Linked DNA regions of Homo sapiens. The protein of the gene in region 3 binds, or shares a complex with, the protein of the main gene of each other region. Each region holds a gene or a part of one and is shown on either strand. Other genes may lie near its edges. The genes, in order: PRPF6, LSM3 and PRPF8.

Region 1 (3,650 bases), on a different chromosome or scaffold from region 3:
TGTGAAGAGCTGAGCCGGCACCTGGCACGTGCAGACCCGTTGTGGGTGTTACTCATTTTCTCTCCTGAGAAGGCACCAGAGCCACACGTTGATTGAACTCTTTCCTGCTGCTGACGAGGCTGTGCCTTCTGCTCCCGCGATGCAGCGTGTGCCGTCAGCTCAGGTCAGATAACGACAGACGGTGTGCCTACCAGGCAACCTGATTCCATCCAGGGATTCCTGCCAGGGTAGAGCTTTTGTGGGTAGTTTGTTTATTTTTATTACTGTGGATTCATAAAAGGAGCACTGTTTCTCCTGTCACTGGAAGTGTGTAGTAGATGCTGCTCTTGAACTGGGTCCAGAACGAGTGCTAGTCAGGGGGCTGTTCTGAAGCTAATCTGTGCAGGTGGCTTCTTTTTTTTCATTTTTTGTTTTTTTTTTCTGGTTTTTTTTTTTTTTTTTTTTTTGAGATGGAGTCTCGCCCTGTCGCCCAGGCTGGAGTGCAGTGGCGTGATCTCGGCTCACTGCAAGCTCCGCCTCCCGGGTTCACACCATTCTCCTGCCTCAGCCTCCTGAGTAGCTGGGACTACAGGCGCCTGCCACCACGCCTGGCTAATTTCTTTTTGTATTTTTAGTAGAGATGGGGTTTCACTGTGTTATCCAGGATGGTCTCGATCTCTTGGCCTTGTGATCTGCCTGCCTCGGCCTCCCAAAGTGCTGGGATTCCAGGCGTGAGCCACTGCACCTGGCCTATGCAGGTGGCTTCTATCCATTTTTTTTTTTTTAGACAGAGTCTCGCTTTGTCGCCCAGGCTGGAGTACAGGGGCACGATCTTGGCTCACTGCAGCCTCTGCCTCCCGGGTTCAAGTGATTCTCCTGCCTCAGCCTCCCGAGTAGCCGGGATTACAGGTGTGCGCCTCCATGCCTGGCCAATTTTTGTATTTTTAGTAGAGATGGGGTTTCCCCATGTTGGCCGGGCTGGTCTCAAACTCCTGACCACAAGTGATCCTCCTGCCTTGGCCTCCCAAAGTGCAGGGATTACAGGCGTGAGCCCCTGTGCCTGGCCTTTTCTTTTCTTTTTTTTTTTTTTTTGAGATGGAGTCTCACTTTGTCCCCCAGGCTGGAGTGCAATGGCACCATCTTGGCTCACTGCAACCTCCGCCTCCTGGGTTTAAGCAATCCTCTTGCCTCAGCCTTCTGAGGAGCTGGGACTACAGGCACCTGCCACCACGCCTGCTTAATTTTTGTATTTTTAGTAGAGACGGGGTTTCACTGTGTTGACCAGGCTGGTCTTGAACTTCTCACCTCAAGTGATCCACCCACCTCGACCTCCCAAAGTGCTGGGATTACAGGCGTGAGCCACTGTGCCCGGCCAGATTTTTTTTTTTTTTTTGAGACAGCGTCTTGCTCTGTCACCCAGGCTGGAGTGCAGTGGCACGATCTTGGCTCACTGCAGCCACCACCTCCCAGGCTCAGGCGATCCTCCCAGCTTAGCCTCCCAAGTAGCTGGGAGTATAGGTCCCACCCCCATGCCCAGCTATTTTTAATTTTTGGTAGAGATGGGATCTTGCTGTGTTGTCCAAGCTTGTCTCAAACTCCCATCCTCAAGTGATCCTCCTGCCTTGATCTCCCAGAGAGCTGGGATTACAGGCATCAGCCGTCGCATCCAGCCTATTCTTCCTGAATTTATAGCCTAGGAAAAATAAAGTGTATTTTATGGAATCAAGGGCAGTTTTCAGTGAGAGCTTTCCAGCTCTTGTTTTTCCAAATGTCTTTAAGCGAAATATCCCATTGAGGCTTCTGTGCTGATAGGACCGTGCAGATGAGGGCTCTTTGGTAGAAAGCCCCTTATCAAATATAGTTTCATTCACTTACTGTCTACGTCTGTTAGAAGACAGGTGAAGGCTGCTTGCCTGTGATGCATGTTCCCCCGACCCTGTGCACTCACATGTGAACGTGCTTTCCTCTGTCGAGGCTGGTTTCTTGACCGCAGCCCAGCTGCTCAGTGAATGCTCAGAGACAGCCTCTTTTATTTTTTTTTATTGAGACAGAGTCTCGCTCTGTCGCCCAGCCTGGAGTGCAGTGGCACGACCTCGGCTCTCTGCAAGCTCCGCCTCCCAGGTTCACGCCATTCTCCTGCCTCAGCCCCCCAAGTAGCTGGGACTACAGGCGCCCGCCACCAGGCCTGGCTAATTTTTTTTTGTATTTTTATTAGAGATGGGGTTTCACCATGTTAGCCAGGATGGTCTTGATCTCCTGACCTCATGATCCACCCGCCTCGGCCTCTCAAAGTGCTGGGATTACAGGCGTGAGCCACCGCGCCCGGCCAGAGACAGCGTCTTATAATGAGGTGGCCAGGAACAGAAAGTTAGCACCTGTCTGGGTTTGTAGAAATCAGTTTATCTTTTTTCAGCTAGGAAGAAATAGTTCTTTGATGAAGAGCCCATGAAAGTCTGGGTAATTAGTATTGTTTACTTAGAAAAGCTCTATTGAATTCTTCCTGCCACAGTTTGATGAATGATCATGAATGTCTTTGTGGCCACTCCCTGCTCACCACCAGATTGTCTGGGTTCATTTCCAGTTGGTTTGGATTTGGAGATGGGAGTATGCTGTTGGAGGCGGGGGCCTTCGGGGAGTGTTGAGGGACTGTGTTTCCACGGCTGTTCTCTCAGGGAGTGGCCTCCTGGCTGTGCTCTCTCAGGCAGAGAAGCTGGGCTAAGGTGGAATGAACCCAGGATCTCCAGGATGGCCTTTGCCGCTGCCCTAATACTGGTCCTGGCCTGCCCTTTCCCAAGAGTGTTTCCAAAAACTGTATTCTTTTCCTGGGGTGAAGCCCAGCACTGCTTCATTTGGTTATTAGCAAACACTTACACGTTGCTTGAAGGGTCTGGTTTTTGAAATTAAGATGACAGCTACTTCCACTGGTGACTTAGGACACCTGCCAGCCAGGGAGCCTGGCAGTGCATGGTCTCTGTGAGCTCTGGGTCGCTGTTGGGCTGAGCTGACACCTTAGTCCTTTGTTGGGAGAATGGGCGTTTTGGGTGCTGATCTTGAGACCTGAGGAGGCTGAGTAACCTTAGGCATGGTGCTTGGCCTCTGAGCTTCCATGTCTTCCTCTGTAAAAGGGAAGAGGGCTTTCAGGATTGGGGAGGGTGCAGCATGTGAGCTTCCTGGCCAGGGTGGGGTGTCCCACGTGCAGAGTCCCCTGGGGAGGCCCGACTGGCAGCTCCCCTACAATAATGCACTCACATGCTGTGTACTCCGCTAGTTAATGCAGATGTGTGGAAGTGGAGTTATTTTACACTAACGCCATATGCTCTGGCCTGTGAAGCGTGGCATCCTTCAGTGGCCGTCGCCAGCGTGTCCCTCTGGGGGCACAGGAATGGCACAGTTCAGGTTGAGGGTCTTCCCTGCAGTCACGTGACCCCCGGAGAGCATGTTGGCCTCTGCACGGTCACGTCTTCATGGCTGTGTCTAGCATTCAGAATACTCTTCTGTTCTAGGCCAACTTCAGGGGTGTGTGCTTCCTCCACTTCTGCTCATAAAGTCACACTCCTTGAAGGCCATTGTATCATGGTGTGCCATGTGGCTTCCGAAAGCACCTGGGGAAGGTGACCTTGTTGGTTTTAGTGCCATGCCTGTGGGCTGCTGATGAGATGCCATGGAGATAT
Region 2 (3,650 bases), on a different chromosome or scaffold from region 3:
TAGAGGTTGCGGTAAGCTGAGATCGTGCTACTGTACTCCAGCCTGGGGGACAGAGTAAGACTCTGTCTCAAAACAAAACAAAACAAAACAAAAAAAAACCTATCACGTGTTACTGTAAGTAACATTTTTATGAACAATAACTATTTTCTAAAACAAAATTTTAATGAGGAATGTCTTTGTTTTACATTTTTGCAAATCTCTTTAATGCCCCGCTTAATCGATAACAGCTAGAAGATTCTCATATCTTTTTTCTGCGTTAAATCTATCATGAGTTGTTGTTGTAATTGAAGCAAATCTGACCACACAGATAGGTAGTTGGAAAGGAAGGAGTTTGTTTTGTGAATGTTCTACCTTTGATACTACACCCAAACTGAACAAGTGGTAGTCAGTCAAAGATTATTTGCCATCTGGAATCTGAAACGGTAACAGTAAACTTTTCGTACTCTTGTTAGGTGAAAATTCATTAATCTGCCTTGCACCTCAAATGGATCTCTTACTCATGCATGATTTGGTTACATCAGGCACTGGTTCTTTAGAAAATAGTAGTTCACTGGGCTATGCAGATTCATTTTATTTCTTCAGTGTTTAAAAAAAATCACATTTATTAGTTATCACCAGTGATCTTGTCAGAAAGGTCTTTTTTTTTTTTTAAAGACAGTCTGACTGTGTCACCCAGGCTGGAGTGCAATGTCAGTCTCAGCTCACTGCAGCCTCCGCCTCCCAGGTTCAAGCAATTCTCGTGCCTCAGCCTCCAAAGTAGCTGGGATTACAGGCATGTGCCACCACGCCCAGCTAATTTTTGTGTTTTTAGTAAAGACAGGTTTCACCATGTTGGCCAGGCTGGTCTCGAACTCCTGGCCTCCCAAAGTGCTGGAATTACAGGTGGGAGCCACTATGCCAGGCCGTAGCAGAAAGAAAGGTCTTTAAGATTTGGAAAGACAGTTTCTGACCCTGCCAGGGCATAGTGGTTAAAATGTGGGCTCAGAGTACAAGACTACATGGATTCAAATTTTGACTCCCTTGCTTACCACCTTTTTAATTGAGCCAGCTCACCTAACCTGTCTGTGGATATGTTTCCTTGTCTGTAAAATGGGAGTAATGATAGGACCCACTTCATACAACTGTGGAGGATTCATTGAGGGCTACATGAAAAGCCTTCAGATAGTGACAGGCACGTTGTCACTGTTAAACTGTTAGCCTTCACTGGATTTTGTAGTTCTGCTTTATCCTGGCTTTCCTCCTCTCTCTGACCACACCTGACTCCTTTGCTAGTGTTCTTTCTCCTTCTGAGTGTAAACATTTAGCATTTTTTTCTTTTTTTAAAATTTTTACTTATTTATTTATGTATTTTTGCTGGCTTATTTCTCCAAGAAAGAATAGCATTTTTTAAAATCTGCATTTTTTCCCCTTTAGGAATTTCATTTATTAACTATTGTTTAGTGGTTATTGTTTTCTTAACATGGACACAATCATAAGTACTAAGATGCACTTTTTCTTAAATTTTAGCATCTTAAAAATCTGATTGCATCTTACAGGTGATGTGATAAAAAAAGAATTGTGTCATAGTTTAATTGGCAAAATTTATCCTTTTTCAGCTCAACTAAGCTTACAAATGATACCTTAAATGTGATAAAATATGGAATATGTGGCTTTAATATTCTGCTTTATTCATGTAACATCATTAACATAAGAATTTTACCATGAGAGTAGACTCTTCATAAGCATTTTAATGCTCTTGTCTTGAATTCTGCTTGTGACAGAAATGACTCTTCAACTGTGGTGTCTATTACAGAGAAGGGAACACTGCCACTTACTCCATGTTTGCAGTGAACTAACAGCAGGGTCCACCTGTGTCATCCCTAGTAGTCTGCTCCAAGTGCGGTTCCTCCTGACACTGTTTGAAGGTGCTATGTGTCTGTGCACATGTGCATTTCTCTGGGTGGGGTGTCTGTAACAGAGTCTCAGTAGTTACTGACCTCCATTAAGATTAATTGCTGCCTTGAAAGGCTACTGGGGCTGGTTAGCTCCTGAACGCTGCGTGCTGCGTGCATGTGGCCTCTCTTGCGCCTAGAGTTGCAGCTGAGAACAGTAAGCAAAGTCTATTTAGTTAATGAGTTCTTTTTCACATTGCCATGATGTATTGGGTAAAACATTTAAAATTGAATCTTTGGATGACTGAGAATACTTTAGTGTGTAAATGTGTATTAACTATAGACATAGAAAGCAAAGACAGTGATATTATAGAGAGTGTCTGCATCTGGTTCAGTGCCATGGAGAACAACTACTTCACTCTCCTGTGCGCTCTTGTTACTCCTCTCCAAGATGGGAAACCAGACTAAATGGTTTCTTACCTTGGCCCATTTTACATTTCGCTCTCTCTCTCGTCTATTGAAATAACTAATGAACATCAACGTTTTACCACCAAAACAGTATGGGGGACCCATAAACCATCAGGTTGTTGGGTTTTTTTCCCCCTATAACTTACATAATTGACTTCTAAATAATTAATTTGGCTGCTGACTTATAAATGGGAAGGTGGAAAGCAGTCAGTCTTACTCTTCTGATTCTTGGTCCTCCATAATTGGAGTTTCCATTTTACAGATTGTGAACAGTCTGTGTTATTTGACCCAGACTACTTTTTCGGCTGTCCATCATGTGTACTACCTTCCTTCACCAAACACCTCGTAGTTTGGCTCACCAGACAGTTTCTCTTGGGGACGTTGTGCCCTTTTGTAACTAAGCCCTCTGCTCCCTCTGCTTGCCCGAAGGCCTTCTACAGCATCAGATGGCTCTTCTAGACCTTTCTGTAGATTAGCACTGTAATAATAGAACTGTCTGCAGCAGTGAAAATTTCTATCTATGCTGTCATTACAGGAGCTATGAGCCACATGTGGCTATTTGGCACTTCAAATGGATGCTGGTGTGATTAAGGAACTGCACATTTAATTTTATTTAATTTTAATTTAATGAGCCACCTGTGACTAGTGGCACTCATATTAGAGCAGCTCTAGACCTGCTCCCTCATACATAACTAACTCTTTATGGTCCATGCTGAGACCATATGGTCCATATCACCGTATAGTACTTAACACATATTTCTTTTCTTACTCATTTTAAATTGCTTCCATTTTAATTTAACTTTTTGAATAGATACTAGACTCACACAGTCTTAAAATTACAAAATGCAGAAAGGAACACAGTGCAGTAAAATGTCTTCCACTCCAGCCTCTGTTCATCATCTTTACACCCCACCCCCAGACATAAGCACTATTACTGGTTTCTTGAGAATCTTCTCGTGTCTTTATGCATATGCTAATGAGTGTTAGTTATTCTCCCTTCCCCTGTTTTTTTATCACAGTGCTCTTTCCCTTTCATACATAGCTTCCTTGTGCTTTCGTTTTTAGCTTTATGGTACTTCACTGTGTAGATGTACCATAATTTAACTGTTTTCCTGTTGATGGACAGATAGCCATTTCCAATATTTTGCTAGTAAAACCTATTCTGCTGTAAATAATTTTATCTTTATCTTTTTTTTTAATTATACTTTAAGTTCTGGATTACATGTGCATAACGTGCAGTTTTGTTACAAAGGTATACACGTGCCCTGGTGGTTTGCTGCACCCATCAACCCGTCACCTACATTATTTCTC
Region 3 (3,650 bases):
GATTACAGGCTTGAGCCACCGTGCCCGGCCCAGCAACGCATATTCTTGAAACATCCACTTTGACCAAATCTCTTCTCTACCTCACAACTCTTGCTGAATTAACTCTTCTTTAGCTTCCTAGACGTTCAACATCTGGCTGGGCTGTATCTGTCCAGCCAGTTTCTCTTCCTTTACATTTATAGCATGTTTCATCTTACATTCAGTCCAGGATCTTAGTAGCCCAAACCCCTGATGCTCATCTCCAAATCTGTGTTTTGCTTGTATTTTTCTTTCTAGAATGAACTCCCCTCTTTGCTCTGTTAATCACAGTCCCTCCTTAAGACACGTTTTTTTGTGCAGCTTTTTTCTGATCCTAGTAGCCTTAATTTCTTTTGTTCCTGAACTCTGTAAAACAGTGTATAGTTTAGCACATACTCATGTGTCAGCTTGTGGTATTGTCTTGTTGAAAGGGGCTGTCAGCCTGGTCATTGGACACGGCCATTTGATACTCTTTGTACCTTCTAAGTGCCTAACATTTAACATCAGTGTTCAATAGAAACGTAGTTGGATTATTTCAAAACTAGGATATTCTGTTCTAGTTGATCTGGGAGGGTAGAGACTAAATTTCCATTTTCTTCTCTCTTGCTTTTAAGTTGGCTAAGTGGAAGACAGCTGAGGAGGTGGCCGCCCTGATCCGATCTCTGCCTGTGGAGGAGCAGCCCAAGCAGATCATTGTCACCAGGAAGGGCATGCTGGACCCACTGGAGGTAAGAGGGTGGGGTGGGGTAGGAGAAAAGAGACCTTGAGACCTTCAGGCTGTTTCTCATCTTGGACTTGATCTTGTCTTAGGTGCACTTACTGGACTTCCCCAATATTGTCATCAAAGGATCGGAGCTCCAACTCCCTTTCCAGGCGTGTCTCAAGGTGGAAAAATTCGGGGATCTCATCCTTAAAGCCACTGAGCCCCAGATGGTTCTCTTCAACCTCTATGACGACTGGCTCAAGACTATTTCATCTTACACGGTATGAACCTCGGGAAGAGAAGATCGCTGGAGGAGGAGCGGGTTTAGGGTTAGGAGAAGATCCTGTGTCAGGTTTTTGCCATTTTCACATTTTTAGCCTATAGATTGGGTGGGAACTCTGTTGACTTTCATGAGAGTTTAAGACCTTAAAGTTAAAAATCAACTCTTGGGGCCGGGCGTGGTGGCTCACGCCCGTAATCCCAGCACTTTGGGAGGCTGAGTTGGGTGAATCACCTGAGGTCAGGAGTTTGAGATCAGGCTGGCCAACATGACGAGACCCCATCTCTACTAAAAATACAACAAAATTAGCCGAGTGTGCTGGGATGCACCTGTAGTCCCAGCTACTCGGGAGGCTGAGGCACCAGAATCACTGGAACCCAGGAGGCAGAGGTTGCAGTGAGCCGAGATGGCACCATTGCACTCCAGCCTGGGCGACAGAGTAAGACTGTCTAAAAAAAAAAAAAAAAAGGCCGGGCGCAGTGGCTCACGCCTGTAATCCCAGCACTTTGGGAGGCCGAGGCGGCGGATCACGAGGTCAGGAGATTGAGACCATCCTGGCTAACACAGTGAAACCCCATCTCTACTAAAAATACAAAAAATTAGCCGGGCGTGGTGGCAGGTGCCTGTCATCCCAGCTATTCGGGAGGCTGAGGCAGGAGAATGGTATGAACCTGGGAGGCGGAGCTTGCAGTGAGCCGAGATCATGCCACTGCACTCCAGCCTGGGCGACAGAGCAAGACTCTGTCTCAAAAGAAAAAAAAAAAATTCTTGGGTTTCATGAAAGGTTAGGATTAAAGTGGGAGAGCCTCAAGCAGCTGACCTACCCCACTCTTCCAAATCTTTTCCCAGGCCTTCTCCCGTCTCATCCTGATTCTGCGTGCCCTACATGTGAACAACGATCGGGCAAAAGTGATCCTGAAGCCAGACAAGACTACTATTACAGAACCACACCACATCTGGCCCACTCTGACTGACGAAGAATGGATCAAGGTCGAGGTGCAGCTCAAGGATCTGATCTTGGCTGACTACGGCAAGAAAAACAAGTGAGCAGTGCTGGTGGGGACACAGACAGGAGGTCTATATACGGTTTTCTGGGGTTTTTTGGAAGCACTTAGGCTTAGAAGTTTCTCAAGAAGGCCAGGCGCGGTGGCTCATGCCTGTAATCCCAGCACTTTGGGAGGCCAAGGTGGGTAGATCATTTGAGGTCAGGAGTTTGAAACCATCCTGGCCAACGTGGTGAAACTCCGTCTCTACTAAAAATACAAAAGTTAGCCGGGTGCGATGGCGCCTACCTGTAATCCCAGCTACTCGGGAGGCTGAGGCAGGAGAATTGCTTGAACCTGGGGGCAGAGGTTGCAGTGAGCCGAGATCATGCCACTGCACTCCAGCCTGGGCGACAAGAGTGAGACTGTCTCCAAAAAAAAAAAAAAAAAAGACGTTTCTCAAGAAATTATCTTGTCTTAGCCAGGCTTGAGTGCTCATGCTAGTAATACCAGCACTTTGGGAGGCCAAGGTGGGAGGATTGCATGAGCCAGGAGTTGAAACCAGCCTGATCAACAAGAGACTGACGCCATCTCTACCAAAAAAAAAAAATTTAAAACAGGTGTGGTGGTACACGCTTGTAGTCCCAGCTTCTTGGAGGCTGAGGCAGGAGGCTTGCTTGAGCCCGGGGGTTTGAGGCTGCAGTGAGCCATGATGATGCCACTGTACTCCAGCCTGGGTAACAGAGCGAGACTCTTGTCTTGAAAACAAGGAAAGAAATTATCTTACAGAGTCTCGAGGAAGAGAGATACAGCAGTGTCTTCGAATAGTATGGGAAGCATCCCTGTTTTAGGGCTTCAGTCTGACTCTTGGCCATTGTTTCTCACTGTTGCCATTTCAAACAGGGCATTTCTTTACTGTCCATACATGGGAAGAATTTTGAACATCCGAGACCCTAAGTATCCGAGACTGCTGCCAACACACACACACACCTTCCTCCCCTCGTCTCCCTCCCTGTCATCGTGGCAACCAAAATTATCCATAGGGTGACGGACAATACCACCTCTGATTAAGAACCAGTATTCTAGGGTTTCTGGGGTTTCCATTTCTGAGAACAGTTCCATGCCAGAGCATTGTTTTGGTCAAGGAAGCGTAGGGTTTATGGATGCTAAACAGTGGGAAGGTGCACACGCAGTGTGCTGTCCCGCTTGGATCTGACGAATCTTGGAAGTGTTAGTGCACCTCCGTTTCACACTTCCTGTAGAAGCAGCTCTTGTGGATTGTCTGGGGCGTGAGTATAGGCTGTCCTGTCCTACCAAGTTACACCCTTTCCATTGAGGCAGAAGTGACCAAGGGGAAGGGATCCTTGTAATATAACCCACACCATCCCCACAGTGTGAACGTGGCATCACTGACACAATCAGAAATTCGAGACATCATCCTGGGTATGGAGATCTCGGCACCGTCACAGCAGCGGCAGCAGATCGCTGAGATCGAGAAGCAGACCAAGGAACAATCGCAGCTGACGGCAACACAGACTCGCACTGTCAACAAGCATGGCGATGAGATCATCACCTCCACCACCAGCAACTATGAGACCCAGACTTTCTCATCCAAGACTGAGTGGAGGGTCAGGTACTGTCGGGCAAGAGGGTGGGGATGGAAAGG

The links.
Region 1: PRPF8 (region 3) and PRPF6 share a complex: the UniProt entries of both Homo sapiens proteins name them as parts of the U4/U6-U5 tri-snRNP complex.
Region 2: PRPF8 (region 3) and LSM3 share a complex: the UniProt entries of both Homo sapiens proteins name them as parts of the U4/U6-U5 tri-snRNP complex.

Annotation. Positions count from the first base shown.
Region 1 is NC_000020.11:64,001,591-64,005,240, forward strand, and holds part of PRPF6 (pre-mRNA-processing factor 6), read left to right. Parts: intron 1-3,650. UniProt on the Homo sapiens protein: Involved in pre-mRNA splicing as component of the U4/U6-U5 tri-snRNP complex, one of the building blocks of the spliceosome.
Region 2 is NC_000003.12:14,185,283-14,188,932, forward strand, and holds part of LSM3 (U6 snRNA-associated Sm-like protein LSm3), read left to right. Parts: intron 1-3,650. UniProt on the Homo sapiens protein: Plays a role in pre-mRNA splicing as component of the U4/U6-U5 tri-snRNP complex that is involved in spliceosome assembly, and as component of the precatalytic spliceosome (spliceosome B complex).
Region 3 is NC_000017.11:1,653,744-1,657,393, reverse strand, and holds part of PRPF8 (pre-mRNA-processing-splicing factor 8), read left to right. Parts: intron 1-632; coding exon 633-746; intron 747-828; coding exon 829-1,002; intron 1,003-1,850; coding exon 1,851-2,044; intron 2,045-3,377; coding exon 3,378-3,617; intron 3,618-3,650. UniProt on the Homo sapiens protein: Plays a role in pre-mRNA splicing as core component of precatalytic, catalytic and postcatalytic spliceosomal complexes, both of the predominant U2-type spliceosome and the minor U12-type spliceosome.